2 linked regions of the Homo sapiens genome follow. The protein of the gene in region 2 purifies or fractionates together with the protein of the main gene of each other region. This does not show direct contact. Each region holds a gene or a part of one and is shown on either strand. Other genes may lie near its edges. The genes, in order: CPT2 and MCUR1.

Region 1 (7,277 bases), on a different chromosome or scaffold from region 2:
AATCTCTTGTTATCTTCAGTTGTGATCTAGTCCCAAGTGGAAATTACGTTTAGCTTTAAAACCATGAATTTAAAGCTCAAGCCTGTAGCTGGCTGCCTAGGCAGCTTATGATTAGTTTCACAGAATAGCACCCACTGGCTACACAGGCCCCAGTTTTTTTTTCTTTTTTGTTTTTTTGAGACAGTCTCGCTCTGTCGCCCAGGCCGGAGTGCAGTGGTGTGATCTCAGCTCACTGCAACCTCCACCTCCTGGGTTCAAGCAATTCTGCTTCAACCTCCCAAGTAGCTGGGATTATAGGCACATGCCACCACACCCAGCTAATTTTTGTATTTTTAGTAGAGACAAGGTTTCACCATGTTGGCCAGGTTGGTCTCAAACTCCTGACCTCAAGTGATCCACCCGCCTCAGCCTCTCAAAATGCTGGGATTACAGGCATGAGCCACCATGCCCGGCCTCCCAGTTTTCATGATGAGGAAGTGATGGTAGCTTTTCATCTGCCCAGAAGTTAACTTTTGATGGATTTGCCTTCTAAGGCATCAAACATGTCTTCTAAGGCCTTCTCCACACATTGGAGAAACTCCCGGGCATTGCGGCCTGGGTAGGAAGAGACATTGCAGCCTATCCAGTTGTCATGAACAGCATACCCAACACCAAAGCCATCAGAGACCACAGGGGCAAAGCCCCCAAGGTTCACTGCTGGGCTGCTCAGTGTGCTCGTGGACAGGACATTGTGGTTTATCTGCCCGTATGCAGGGTCCAGGTAGAGCTCAGGCAAGATGATCCCTTTGGCTGCTGCCAGATGCCGCAGAGCAAACAAGTGTCGGTCAAAGCCCTGGCCTGTGAGAAACAAAATGGAAAACCAGAGTCTCAGGATGGAAAAGGACCTCAGGAAAACCTCCCAACTCACCACATGGTAGGAATACCCCTCACAGCATCCTTGAGAGTGGGGGAAGGCTCTACCTCTATGCACACCACCAACTGACTAACCTTCAGAGCAGCTCAAGCTAGATTATTTTAAATTATTTAGGAAATATATTATGTCATGTTACATTTAAAAATAGCTGTCAACAGCTGAGCTAAAAATGAGCCTAAAAGGAAAGCATAATTTTAAAGATGTGAAATCAGTTTAGTCAAAGAGTCAAGACAGTACAGGAAGACAGCTATGGACTCAAAAACTACAATAAAACTAAAAGTCTGATTCAAGTGTAAAAGAGAAGATTGAGTCAGTGGAACAAAATGGAAAGTCTGTTTGACCAGGGTTCGAATCTCAGTCTTACTACTAACTTGCTGTGTAACGGGGCCAGTGGCTTGGTTTTCTCCCTATAAAATGGAGGAAGAGAAGATTAGAATGTCTTGGAGGTCCCTTTCACTTCCAGCACTTCATAGCAACATGAAAGGACAACTATGACCCTCCAGGTCCTTTCCAGGTCTTGAATTTTATCAAAAAAAGGTAATGACGGATGACAATTGAGAAGAGCTTCTGAGATAACCTGTTTACAGAGAGCAGACACATTACAACTGAGGTGAAGCTAGTGGGGCCGTAAGTTTAGAAATCCTAAATTTTCAAAAGTGAGTCTGATAACCAATCAGTAATAGAAAAAGGTTGGGTGCAGTGGTGCATGCCTATAATCCTAGTGCTTTGGGAGGCCAAGGCAGGAGGATTGCTTGAGCCCAGGAGTTTGAGACCACCTTGGGCAATACAGTGGGACCTCATCTCTACAAAAAATTTTAAAAATTAGGCCCGGCATGGTGGCTTACGCCTATAATCCCAGCACTTTGGGAGGGTGAGGCGGGTAGATCATGAGGTCAGGAGTTTGAGACCAACCTGGCCAACATAGTGAAACCCCGTCTCTATTGAAAATATAAAAATTAGCTGGGCATGGTGGCATAAGCCTGTAGTCCCAACTACTCAGGAGGCTGAGGCAGGAGAATCGCTTGAACCCAGGAGGCAGAGGTTGCAGTGAGCTGAGATTGTGCCACTGCACTCCAGCCTGGGCAACAGAGCAAGAGTCCATCTCAAAAAAAAAAAAAAATTAAAATATCAGCTGGGCATGGTGGTGCATGCCTATAGTCCCAGCTATTTGGGAGGCTGAGGCAGGAGGATTGTTTGAGCCAAGGAAGTTGAGGTTGCAGTGAGCCATGATTGCACCACTGTACTCCAGCCTGGGTGACAGAATGAGACCGTGTCTCCAAAAAAAAAAAGGCCAGGTGCGGTGGCTCACGCCTGTATTCCTAGAACTTTGGGAGGCTGAGAGGGATGGATCACCTGAGGTCAGGAGTTCAAGACCAGCCTGGCCAAAATGGCAAAACCCCTTCTTTACTAAAAATGCAAAAACTAGCCAGGTGTAGTGGCGGGTGCCTATTATCCCAGCTACTTGGGAGGCAGAGGCAGGAGAATCACTTGAACCTGGGGGTGGAGGTTGCAGTGAGCCGAGATCACGCCATTGCACTCCAGCCTGGACGGAGGGAAACTCTTGTCTCCAAAAAAAAAAAAAAAAAAGAAAGAAAAAAGAATTAATGCGTCACAGCTGAAAGTGACCTTAAATGAGGACAAAGACACATGCATTTCCCCACCCCTGCTTAGGAGGCAAGAACATTCTGATCCCTAGTGGCTAGTGTGGCTGTTCAGACTGCTAGGGTAGAAAAGAAAAATTTGGGGAGTTGGCGATGGATTAAACCTAGTGAACGGGTAGAAATCAGATTTGGAGTAGAATGATTTAGGCTTGCTTACCCAAGCACTGAGGACAAGACCCAAGGGCATGCTCCCCACCCCTGCCTCACCCATTGCTGCTTCTTTGGTCAGCTGGCCATGGTACTTGGAGCACTCAACCATCATCTGCTGAAGCTCACCAGCACTGTGCCTGGAGGGCTCCCTGACAAAGGCCTCAGAGCACCTCTTTGTATAGACGGAGGCCGGGCGGATGGTCTCAGTGCGGCCGTGCTTGAATGCGGCAGTGCTACAGGACTCGTAGGTGGCCACTGTCTGCCCGTACTGCCGCAGGAAGGCCATCTGGAATGCCAGCTGGGCAACTGCGTCAGGGCTCAGCTTTTGCTTCTTCAGGAATTCTTTGCCTCCTCTCTGAAACTGGACGCAGTCAATAGTGAGGGTTTTCATGGTGGCATCAAACTTTTCCTTAGCAGCTGTGATGCCAGTCTTTAAGGCATCAGTCAGCTCGAAGTTGAGTTTCTGCACCGTGACAGTAGAGTCAGTGGTAGCTGGCTGGCTCTGTGGAGTGACGGCAGGGGTCTGAGTGCTGTCTTTAAATACTTCATTAAAAAATCTGAGCACTGCCACACCATCACCCCAAGAGTGCTCAAAGTGGACGGCAGTAGAGCCATCCTTGGCGATAATGAGGTTAAAGGATTTATCAAACCAGCGGTTTGTGCCATCCCCATGCAGCATATTGTGGGACAAGTGGACAAGGTCCTTAATGGGGAAGTCATCTAGGCAGAGACAGAACACTGCCGAGTCCACTTTCCTCAGGCTCTCCTCATTGCCACTACTCATCAGCTTCTGCCTGAGCTCTGCCCAGATGTCTCGGTTCTCACTGGTCAGGTATGCCAGGGGAAACTCGGGGGCGGGGCTGCTGTCTGAGAGAATGTACTTCAGATGTGCCTGGATTTCCGAGGGGCTCACAATGTTCCCATCTTGATCCAGGACATCAAAGATATAAAAATTTCCTTTCCTTAGGACCAGGAGGTGTCTGGCCTTGTCATCAGTGAAGAGTTCATCCCGACTGGGTTTGGGTAAACGAGTTGAGTTGAAAAGCCGAAAATACTGGGACATATCCAGGGGATACGCATTGACCAGGTAGGCCCCATACCAGGACAGAGAGGAAGGCACAAAGCGTATGAGTCTCTTGAAGGTGATAGTGTCACTTTTTGCAGGGTTCAAGTGGAACACTTCTGGCTCCAGAAGGCCAGCCCGGAGTGTCTTCAGAAACCGGATGGCAGAAACAGTCATGTTGGTTGCCCGGGTGAGCTGGTCATTATACTCAGATTTTGGGTCAGGATTGAAAGCCATAAATGGATTAAAGTTCAGAACAACGGAGTCTCGAGCAGATAGGTACATATCAAACCAGGGTCCTAAAAAATAAAAAGAAAAAAATAACATAAAATGTTAATGCTGTCCCTAAAAATAAAATTTGAAGAAGAAAAAAAATTCAAGCATAGACAAAGGAAATGGCATCAACCTCCAGAGAGAAGAATTCCCTGAATGTTTTTGCTCTGCAATAATTCAAGACATACAAATGGGGTCATACAATATATGGTGTTTTGCATTTAGCTTCTATCACTTACAATAATGTTTTTGTTTTGTTTTTTTGGGACGGAGGCTCGCTCCTGTCGCCCAGGCTGGAGAACAGTGCTGCAATCTCGGCTCACTGCAACCTCCGCCTCCCGGATTGAAGCGATTCTCCTGCCTCAGCCTCCTGAGTAGCTGGGATTACAGGCGTCCTCCACCATGCCCAGATAATTTTTGGATTTTTAGTAGAGACAGGGTTTCACCATGTTGGGCAGGCTGGTCTCAAACTCCTGACCTCAGGTGATCCACCCGCCTCGGCCTCCTAATAATGTTTTTAAGGTTCATCCATGTTGTAGCATTTAAGTTCTTCATTTCTTCTTAGCGCTGAACAATGTTCCATTATATGGATATACTATATTTTGTTTATCCACTCATCAGGTAATGGACATTTGAACTGTTTCCACTCTTTATTATGAATTACATTGCCTTTTTTTTTTTTAAGAGACACAGGATTTCTATCATCCAGGCTGGATTGCAGTGGTATGATCATGGCTCACTGCAGCCTTGAACCCTGGGCTCAAGCGATCCTCCCACCTCAGCCTCCCAAGTAGCTAGGACTACAGATGCACACCACCAGCCTGGCTAATTTTTTTATTTTTGGTAGAGATGGGGTCTTATTATGTTGCTCAGGCTGGTTTCAAGCTCCTGGCCTCAAGTAATCCTCTCACCTCAGCCTCTTAAAGTGCTGGGATTACAGGTGTGAGCCACTGCACCTAGCTATTAAGAATTATGTTGTTATGAACATTCTTATACATGTTTTTGTATGGACATAGCTAGGAGTGGAACTACTATCACATGGTAAGTCTCTGTTTAACCTTTGAGGAACTGCCAGGATGTTTTCCAAAGTGGCTGCACCATTCCCACGAGCTGTCTGTGAGGGTTCCAATTTTTCCACATCCTCAGCAGCACTTGTTACATGTCTTGTGGCGTGGAGATATTCTGGTAGGTGTAAAGTAGTATAGCATTGCAGATTTGGTTTGCATTTTCCTAATGTTTATTAATTGCTTTTTCTTCCTCTTCTGTTTCCTTTCTTGGTTTAAAGGAATAAAATATGGTAACACTCCACTTGCATTCATGCTGGAACAGAATAGTTAATTCCCACCCCATCTCTTTAGGTTTCTCTTGCTTCATCTCCTTTCAGGGGCAACAATCATACTTGATTGCTCCCCGATAAGGGGGGAACGTCTTCATTGTCCTTCTATGTACAGTGTACATTTGTACACTCCCTGTTTAGAAAGTACTAAAAAAGCTATTATAAATATCAGTGCATGGATCACTCAGACTAGCCCTCTGAGTTCCTATAGATGTTTTACCTGTAAAAATTCCAGAAGCAATATTTTATCAGAAAATATGTCAGGGAAAGTTCCTGCTGGGATTAGTAAACATGAATAAACTCTATAAATAAGGACTATCATTCAGGCAAATAATGTTCATATGTATAGCACTGGGAAAAGGATTAATAGATGCAGATTTCTCTGTTACTCATTTGTTGGTCCATCCACTCATTCCATCCCTTGAGAATCAGTGCTGTGCCAGGCCTTGGTCCAGGGGATTTAGAGAGGAATAGGACATGGTCTTTGATTCTGAAAAACTCTGGTGAAGGAGGCAAATAATTAAAACATAACGCAATGCACTAAAATGGTGAGAGAAAAGTACTGGTGGATAAGATATATTTGATGAAAGAAGACATAAATTCATGCCTCTGACCCCCCTTTAGCAAAAGAATTTCAAAGAGACATAAACCAGTCAGGCCAAGAGAATGGGAGACGAGAAAACAAATACTGGAAGCTGGAAAGCACTTATGCAACTGGTAATGACTAAAGCAGACTCAAGAAAGCCAATCCTAAATTGGCAGGAGAGAAAGCCAAGAAATCATATGATTTGCACAGCAGAACCCCCAGAGGGCTCAGTAATTGGCAACCTAGATACATCTGGTTGAAGGACTATTCAATTATATCACCACTACCACAACCTGAGATTCCCTCCTCACTCCTGTAGAAGACTTAAGTTTTACTCTCTGGAGATAATAAAACTGGGGGCTGGGTGCAGTGGCTTATGCTGGTAATCCCAGCAATTTGGGAGGGCGAGGTGGGTGTATCATGAGGTCAGGAGATCAAGACCATCCTGGCTAACATGGTGAAACACCGTCTCCGCTAAAAATACAAAAAATTAGCCAGGTGTCGTGGCACGTGCCTGTAGTCCCAGCTACTCAGAAGGCTGAGGCAGGAGAATCACTTGAACCCAGGAGGCTGAGGTTGCAGTGAGCTGAGATCGCACCACTGCACTCCAGCCTGGGTGACAAAATGAGACTCTGTCTCAAAAAATAAATAAATAAAATAAAACTGGGAGACCTGAATCACAGTTGAGATCTCAAACCTTCTTCCCTTACTTACCCTGCCTTCTACAACACTAGCAACCTTTTGGCAGTTTACTGGAAAAGCCTCCCTAGGGAAGCTAACCCAACTACACTACCATTAGGGGCAACCCAGGGAAGCAGTTTAGCTGGATCACTGTATTAGTCTGTTTTCACACTGCTATAAAGAACTACCTGAGACTGGATAATTTATAAAGAAGAGAAGCTTAACTGACTTAGTTCCGCATGGCTGGGAAGGCCTTAGGAAACTTACAATCATGGTGGAAGGCAAAGGGGAAGCAAGGCACATCTTACACAGCAGCAGGAGAGAGAACAAGCAAGGAGTAGGAACTGCCAAACACTTTTAAACCATCAGATCTCATGAGAACTCACTATCACAAGAAAAGCATGGGGGAAACTACCCCATGATCCAATCACCTCCCACTAGGTCCCTCCCTTGACACTTGGGGATTATTACAATTCAAGATCAGATTTGGTTGGAGACACAGAGCCAAACCACATCATTCTGCCCTGGCCTCTCCCAAATTTCATGTACTTCTAACATTTCAAAACACAACCATGTCTTCCCAACAGTGCCCCAGAGTCTTAACTCATTCCAGC
Region 2 (7,193 bases):
TTTGAGATGAATTCCTTTCTCCTCAGTTCTTCCCTTTTCACATAAACGAGCTCACTTAAATCTGGTACCTCTTTTTTAGTTTATTTCCAGTCCTGAGACTAAAACTGGCCTCCATGAGAAGAGACCCAGGATGTCTGCCCAACACAGAAGAGACCTAGCCTGAGAAACAGTGGGAGTGAAGGAATGAAAGCACTTCTCCAGGGGACCTCCTAAGGACCACCTCACCTGCCCCAGAACTCTACTGGACTGCCCCATGTGTCAGGGAGCTCGAAAACACCTGAGTCTGGAATGACTTGTGAAGAGTGACAGGGTTACTCTAGACCTAAATTCCTTGTTTCTAGTAAGAAAATAATCATTCATGTATTTAAAACATAACCTCCTCACCCCCACCCCCACATAAACAAAACAATCACATGACTACTTTGTAACGCCAATTTGGATACTACAGTTTTTTTGTTATTGTTGTTCTTTTTCAAAAAGATTGGAACCAGAAACAGCAAGCTTATTTCCAAGAAATCCTGCCTCTGAAAGGTCGACAGAAGGGCTGGCCACTTTCCATTGGTCACTCCAACCCCTGATGAGGGAAGGAAATGCCCTCTTGGCCTTCTGTCAAAGGGCAGTACCTGAGGACACCGCCAACTCCCAGACTCCTCACTGATCATAAGGAAGCGAGCCAACTGAGCTGTGTCAACGTGTAACATGCAATTCCCCTTTCTGGGGACCTTCAGCATATCAAGAGAATATTAAAAACCCACAATTACAATAGAGGCCCAAAGGTAGCCTTGGACAGGATGAGGAAACCAAATACAAACTTCCTACTCATGACATCCTTAAGTAGCTCAACCGAGAACCTCAGGCACCAAGCAAACAAATGGTTGGGAAACGCTCATTGGCTGGTTAATGGGCATACATGCTTCCTTAACTGTGTCTCTGCTCTCTTCTGTTTTTATGCATCCATACTCATTTTTTATGATGACTGAAGAATGAGATAGCTGACACTAAAACAACAGTACCACCTTACCGATTGGTCAGCAAATCCGTGAGAAAGAACACTCTCTTTTTGCCCTATACTCTTGCATTGAGAGAAAAACAAATTGGAAATTACTAGCTTGTCAGAAAAAGCGCAACAAAAGGCAAAATACAGAATAAAGACCAAACTCATCTCCGACTCCTAATTACTGAAGGACAGTGACACCGAGTTCACTACTCATTCCCCACTCTCTGTATATAAAGTTTCCTTCACTTTATTGCTCTACTAATCAGTTTTTACCCCAGCCAATGATATTCTTAAATTATAGATATGGTCAACATTTAGTGGGCCTATCTGTTGAAGAAAATATGAAAAATGTGTAGTTAGTGATGGCTACTAATGAATATGTATAGACTGCCCAAAGTGATAATTTTGCCAAGTCTGTTGATTATCAGAAATGATTTTTTTCTTTAATCAACAATATGCTATCTAATAAATTGATTCTATTTACTTTCCTCATCTCCAGGGCAGTGATCTCTCTCACCTCCTTTAAATAGTCATGAGCCCCACAACTACCTTTCAGCCCAGGACAGAGGGGCACACACGACAGTGGTCTATGAGACTATAATACATATTTTTACTCTACCTTTTCTACATTTAGATGCGCAAATACCATTGTGTTCAGATTGCCTCTAGTATTCAGTACGGTAACATGCTGTTCAGGTTTGTAGCCTAGGAGCACTAGCCTCTACCTGATAGTCTAGGTGTGTAGTAGGCTGTAGCATCCAGGTTTGTGTAAGCACACTCTACAATATTCACACAAGGAAGAAGTCGCCTAATGACTCATTTCTCAGTAGGCGACTGTCCTGAAGAGATGCATGACTCTAATTAAATGCTACCTTCTCAATGAAATCGATTCTGATCACCCTATTTAAATTCACAACTGGAGACCCATTCCACTTCCCAAGCCTTATCCTATTTTTCTATACCAGGCATCGAATTACGAATATATAAAAATTATTTGTATATATAAATTATATATACATCAATTATGCATACGTATATCCACACACACATATTTACTGCGTCTGCTCTGCTAGAATTAAGCTCCAGAGGGAAGATTTTGTGGACTGATATATCTCACACATCTAGAAAAGCGCCAGGGACAGGGCAGACGCTAGGACTCCACGAATTAATGATTCCATCAGAATTTGAAATCAAACTGTAAAGCAATCCCTTCATTTCCCAGAGCTTTGCTGCTCAAACATACACACCCCTTCCCCTTGAACGCCCAACAGGCTGGGCGCTGCCAAACAGAACTCCTGGAAGGCGGCGCCCAAAAGCAGACCCTAGGAGTGGGCGGGCACCAACTCCCCGCCCCAGCACGCACCTCCCTCCAACTTTAGCGCCCGGGATTCCCAGGAATTCGTCTCTTCTGGGCTAAGCCCCGCCACCGCGGCCGAGCAGGGCGGGCCCGGACCTTCGACCCACGCTCCGGGCAGATGCCGGTGGCCTTGGAGGACCCGCCCTCCGGCCTGCCGGGCCTTTCCTCGGGGAGGCTGTAGCTGAGATCCCCGCCCCGCCGTCCAACCCCGCGAGACGAGCCCCCTCTCCTCTCCCGCCCGGGCCTCACCTCTCCTGCAGGAAACGAGTGCAGGCGCCGGGCCGTGGTACTGGGGAAGGGCGCCGGCGGCAGCGGCGACGCCCGGTGAGCACCTCCACGCGCTGCTGCGCCCGGCCGGGGGTGCGGCATACCCGAGGCGCGAGCGCTCCCAGTCCCCGAGCTGCCGGCGCGGGGCTGCGGCGGCCAAGCGCGGGGAGGGCACTAGCAGGAGGAGGAGCAGCGGTGAGGCACGTGACACGCCGCCGCGGGCCGCCGGGGCGCGAGGGCGCAGCGCCCCCAGACCGTCGGAGAGCGCAGAGAGGCAGCGGCGTGCTGAGGTTTCGCTGCCGCCCGGTCTTCCGCTGAGGCCCACGGGCAAGAAGAGAAGCCGCTGGCGGCCGGGCAGGCGCTGGGTCCTCTGGCCGCCGACCGAGCCGCAGTCCATCCCCGAGCAGTTCACTGGCCCGGGCGCGCGCTCATGCCTCTCGCTTTTGGCGCCGGCCACGCGCGGTCCAGGCCCAGAGTCCGACAGCGGGAGCGAGCGTGGGCCACAGCGCAGGACCGCCCTTTCCTGCCGGGCGCGCGGGCGGGGCTCGGGACGCGCGCCGGGGGTGGGGTGGGGCGGGGCGGCAGGAGCCCGCCGTGGCGCTCCGAGATGCGGGGACCGTGCGAGCCCCCACCCCATTCGCTAGGCGACGGCGGCGACCGGGAGGAGCCTGCGGGCACTCCGGAACTGGAAGGAGCTTGTTGCTGTCACGATTTGCATTTTCACTGCACTGCTGTCCTTAAAAAGGAATTACCCCGGTGCCCTTCAGAGTCCTGTGAAAAGTCTCAGACCGACAGGCTGCCCTAGATTTCACTGATTATCCTAAGTCCCCAAACATGTGGTTCTGGGGAGCATTTTAAGGAATTATTAGCAGGGCCCAGGGAAAGGCCCTCACATAATACATTCAAAACTAAATTTTCAGAGTTTTTGTTTCCAGATTAGAGCACCAAAAACATGGGAAGGTAGCAATCTGGGAACTTAAAACGTGGGGCATGAATGTTAAAATGAGACCTGTCGGGTATATTTGAAACTGGTAATGTTTAGTTTCGTGGACTTTTTGAAGGCCTGTTACACCATTCACAGATAACTGGTCCCTTATGTGAATTTGGAAGATGTTAGTTGAATAAATAAATGAAATGCATAAGGCACCAAGCTAGGAGATTTTATTAAAAATAAAAAACCGCAAAACAAATTGTTCTTATCCTCCAGAAGCTGTTTTCCTATACAGCCATATGTGTACACATACGTGATGGAAGAATGTGTTATGAGCCATGAGAGATGTACAAAGTGCTGGGAAGAGAGGAGCGTGCATATGGATGTGCAAGATAAGTGTCTATCAAAATTTGAAGAACTGAAAAACAGGATTCAAGTCATAGGTTGGTGCAAAAGTAGTTGCGGCTTTTGCCATTGCAAGTAATGGCAAAAACCGCAATTACTTTTGCACCAACCTAAGACACTTTTGTAAAAGGAGTATACATTTATAAAATTGGTAGAAAAAGCAGTTTAGCAATGAGTATCAACAAAAATTTGTAAACTTTTCTCAAGTCACCTAACTAAAAATGGGGATAATGGGAATAATCCAAAATATTAAATATCTACTAGGTTTGACTATACAAACTTGTCATTTTTATGGGTCAAAATGCTTAATATTGGTAATTTCACATATGCACAAAAGATAGTCATTGTATCATAATTTGTGATTGTGAAAAAATGGGAAAATAGTGCACAACATTAGAGGAACGATTAAACTGTGGCACAAACTTTAATGTTAGTCCTTTGTAATTTTTAAAAATTGAGGTATAATTTGCATACAGTAAATTCCACAGACTTAGGTGACATTTAGCAGTTGATAAATGTCATTTAGCAACTTGATGACATTTAGCAGTTGTATATACCACCCAGTCAAGATCTAGAACATTTTCATTGCTCCAGAAAGTTATTTTGTGCCAGTTTTCCAGACAATCCACCACCACCCCAAGGCAACTATTTTCTCTTTTTTTTTTTGAGACGGAGTCTTGCTCTGTCACCCAGGCTGGAGTGCAGTGGTGCAGTCTCAGCTCACTGTGTCCTCTGCCTCCCGGGTTCAAGCAATTCTCCTGCCTCAGCCTCCTGAGTAGCTGGGATTACAGGTGTCTGCCACCACGCCTGGCTAATTTTTGTATTTTTAGTAGAGACGGGGTTTCACCATATTGGCCAAGCTGGTCTCGAACTCCTCACCTTGTGATCTGCCCGCCTCGGCCTCCCAACGTGCTAGGATTACAGGCGTGAGCCACCGCGCCCGGCCAACTATTTTCAAATTTCAATGACCATAGATTAGTTTTGTCTTTTTTTGAACTTCATGTAAATGGAGACCTACAATATGCATTGCCTTGTGTCTTTCTTCTGCTTTGCGTCTGACTTCAATATCAATGAGATTCATCCATGCTGTTGTATCAGTAATTAGTTGCTTTTAATTGTTGAATAGTATTCCATTGTATGACCATACCACAAGCGGTCATCCATTCTATTAATGGCCATTTGCTTTGCTTATAGTTTTTGGCTATTATGCATAGGGCGTTATGAACATTCTTGTATAAGACCTTGTGTGGACATAATTTTTATCCCTGTTGGGGAAAGTATCTGGGTCAAATTGCTGAATCATATGGTAGCTTAACTTTAGACACTGCTGAATTGTTTTTCCAAAGCGACTGCACCCTTTCACACTCTTAGCAATAGATGAGCGTTTCGGTTGTTCCACATCCTTGCCAAATTTTGATATTTTCAGTCCTCATAAAATGGTACCTTATTGTGATTTTTAACATAACATTTCCCTGATGCCTAATGATGTTGACTAACTTTTCATGTATTACTATTACCAGCCATATTGAATACAATAACATATGTAAAGCACTTAGCACAGTGCCTGGCCTATGATAGGAGTATAATGAATGTCAGTTCTAACTACAGGTTGGATAGCATCCACTTTTCCTTGGATGTGACACCTGTTGTTTTATTTTCCAAAGCATTCCCTTTCTTTTGGTCTCAGCACCCTAGTTTTCCATGGGCAGTGGCTCTTCTCTGCTCTCAGTCCATGCGGTTTGGAGAGACTGATCGCTCTGCAGACCACAGGCATGGGCATGTCACCCAATCAGAGTTAATGAGCAGCCGGGCGCGGTGGCTCACGCCTGTAATCCCAGCACTTTGGGAGGCCAAGGAGGGCGGATCACTTGAGGTCGGGAGTTGGAGACCAGTCTAGAGAAACCCCGTCTCTACTAAAAATACAAAATTAGCTGGGTGTGGTGGCACATGCCTGTAATCCCCGCTACTTGGGAGGCTGAGACAGGAGGACTGCTTGAACCCAGGAGGTGGAGGTTGCGGTGAGCTGAGATTGCACCATTGCACTCCAGCCTGGGCAACAAGAGTGAAATTCCATCTAAAAAAAAAAAGCTTCAATTCTAGGATTCTTTTTTTGTTTGTTTATTTGAGATGGAGTCTCACTCTGTTGCCCAGGCTGGAGTGTGGTGGCTCAATCTTGGCTCATTGCAACCTCCACCTCCTGGGTTCAAGCGATTCTCCTGTCTCAGCCTCCCACGTAACTGGGATTACAAGCAAGCACCACCATGCCCAGCTAATTTTTGTATTTTTTAGTAGAGACGGGGTTTCACCATGTTGGCCAGGCTAGTCTCAAACTCCTGACCTCAAGTGACCTGCCTGCCTCAGCCTCCCAAATTGCTGGGATTACACGTGTGAGCCACCACGCCTGGCCCAATTCTAGGGTTCTTAATAGGAACTATTGGGAAGAGGTCGTCTTATTTTATTGTGATGTCTAGGTATAGGATGATTTGAACCATGAGCTCCTGGGGCTACCATGTGGCCTAAGACTAAAGCCCTTATGAAGAAAAGAAGACTGAGAAATGAAGAGACGGGTCCTTTTGAGCGTCTGATTCTAGCTTAGGCTGAAATTGGCATTTTATTTATGTAATCCAATAAGTTGCTTTTACTTAAACCAGCTGGGATAGGGCTTCTGATTCCTATCCCGGATACATTAGTGTACATTAGGATAATCTAGACATGTTAGACTTCTGTCTATGTATAGAGAGACTAGATACAGGAATCTAATGGCCAATGAAGAAGAAGAAGTATCAACTAATTAATGGATCAGGCAGGAGCCAGACAACCCCCATGTGAACCATGACAAAGTTGGACTTTATGACAAAGTTGGATTGGTGAATATACTTGGATCTGGGGCCAAAGTGGGGCCATCTTACTCTCTCTCTGTATCTAGACTTAGGGACCTCCCATGAGTAAAGCTGGATTCACAGAGCAGACTCTGACTTAGCCACCATCTGTGAGAAGTTTAGGTGGCCTTATATATTCTAGGTGTCATCAGGAGAAAAGAGATGGAAGATGGCCAGAGCTATCCCTGAAAGATCTACTGGGTCTGTTTTAGCAGGTAGTAACAGAAAGGTCAAGGGCTCATTGTCCCCGGTGCAAGCAGGTCAAAGAGAGAACAAAGGAGTTGGAACATTCCTGGATGTGACCTTTAGCATACTGATACTCTTACTAGTAAACACTGATGGGGGAATGTCAACTTC

Evidence for each region.
Region 1: the proteins of MCUR1 (region 2) and CPT2 purify together in Homo sapiens (affinity purification with mass spectrometry; 2 studies listed by BioGRID and IntAct, with this or other methods). This does not show direct contact.

Annotation. Positions count from the first base shown.
Region 1 is NC_000001.11:53,206,824-53,214,100, reverse strand, and holds part of CPT2 (carnitine O-palmitoyltransferase 2, mitochondrial isoform 1 precursor), read right to left. Parts: intron 4,087-7,277; coding exon 2,782-4,086; intron 838-2,781; coding exon 506-837; 3' UTR 1-505. UniProt on the Homo sapiens protein: Involved in the intramitochondrial synthesis of acylcarnitines from accumulated acyl-CoA metabolites.
Region 2 is NC_000006.12:13,811,412-13,818,604, forward strand, and holds the start of MCUR1 (mitochondrial calcium uniporter regulator 1), read right to left. Parts: upstream 3,147-7,193; 5' UTR 3,019-3,146; coding exon 2,604-3,018; coding exon of another isoform or gene 2,361-2,603; intron 1-2,360. UniProt on the Homo sapiens protein: Key regulator of mitochondrial calcium uniporter (MCU) required for calcium entry into mitochondrion. Plays a direct role in uniporter-mediated calcium uptake via a direct interaction with MCU.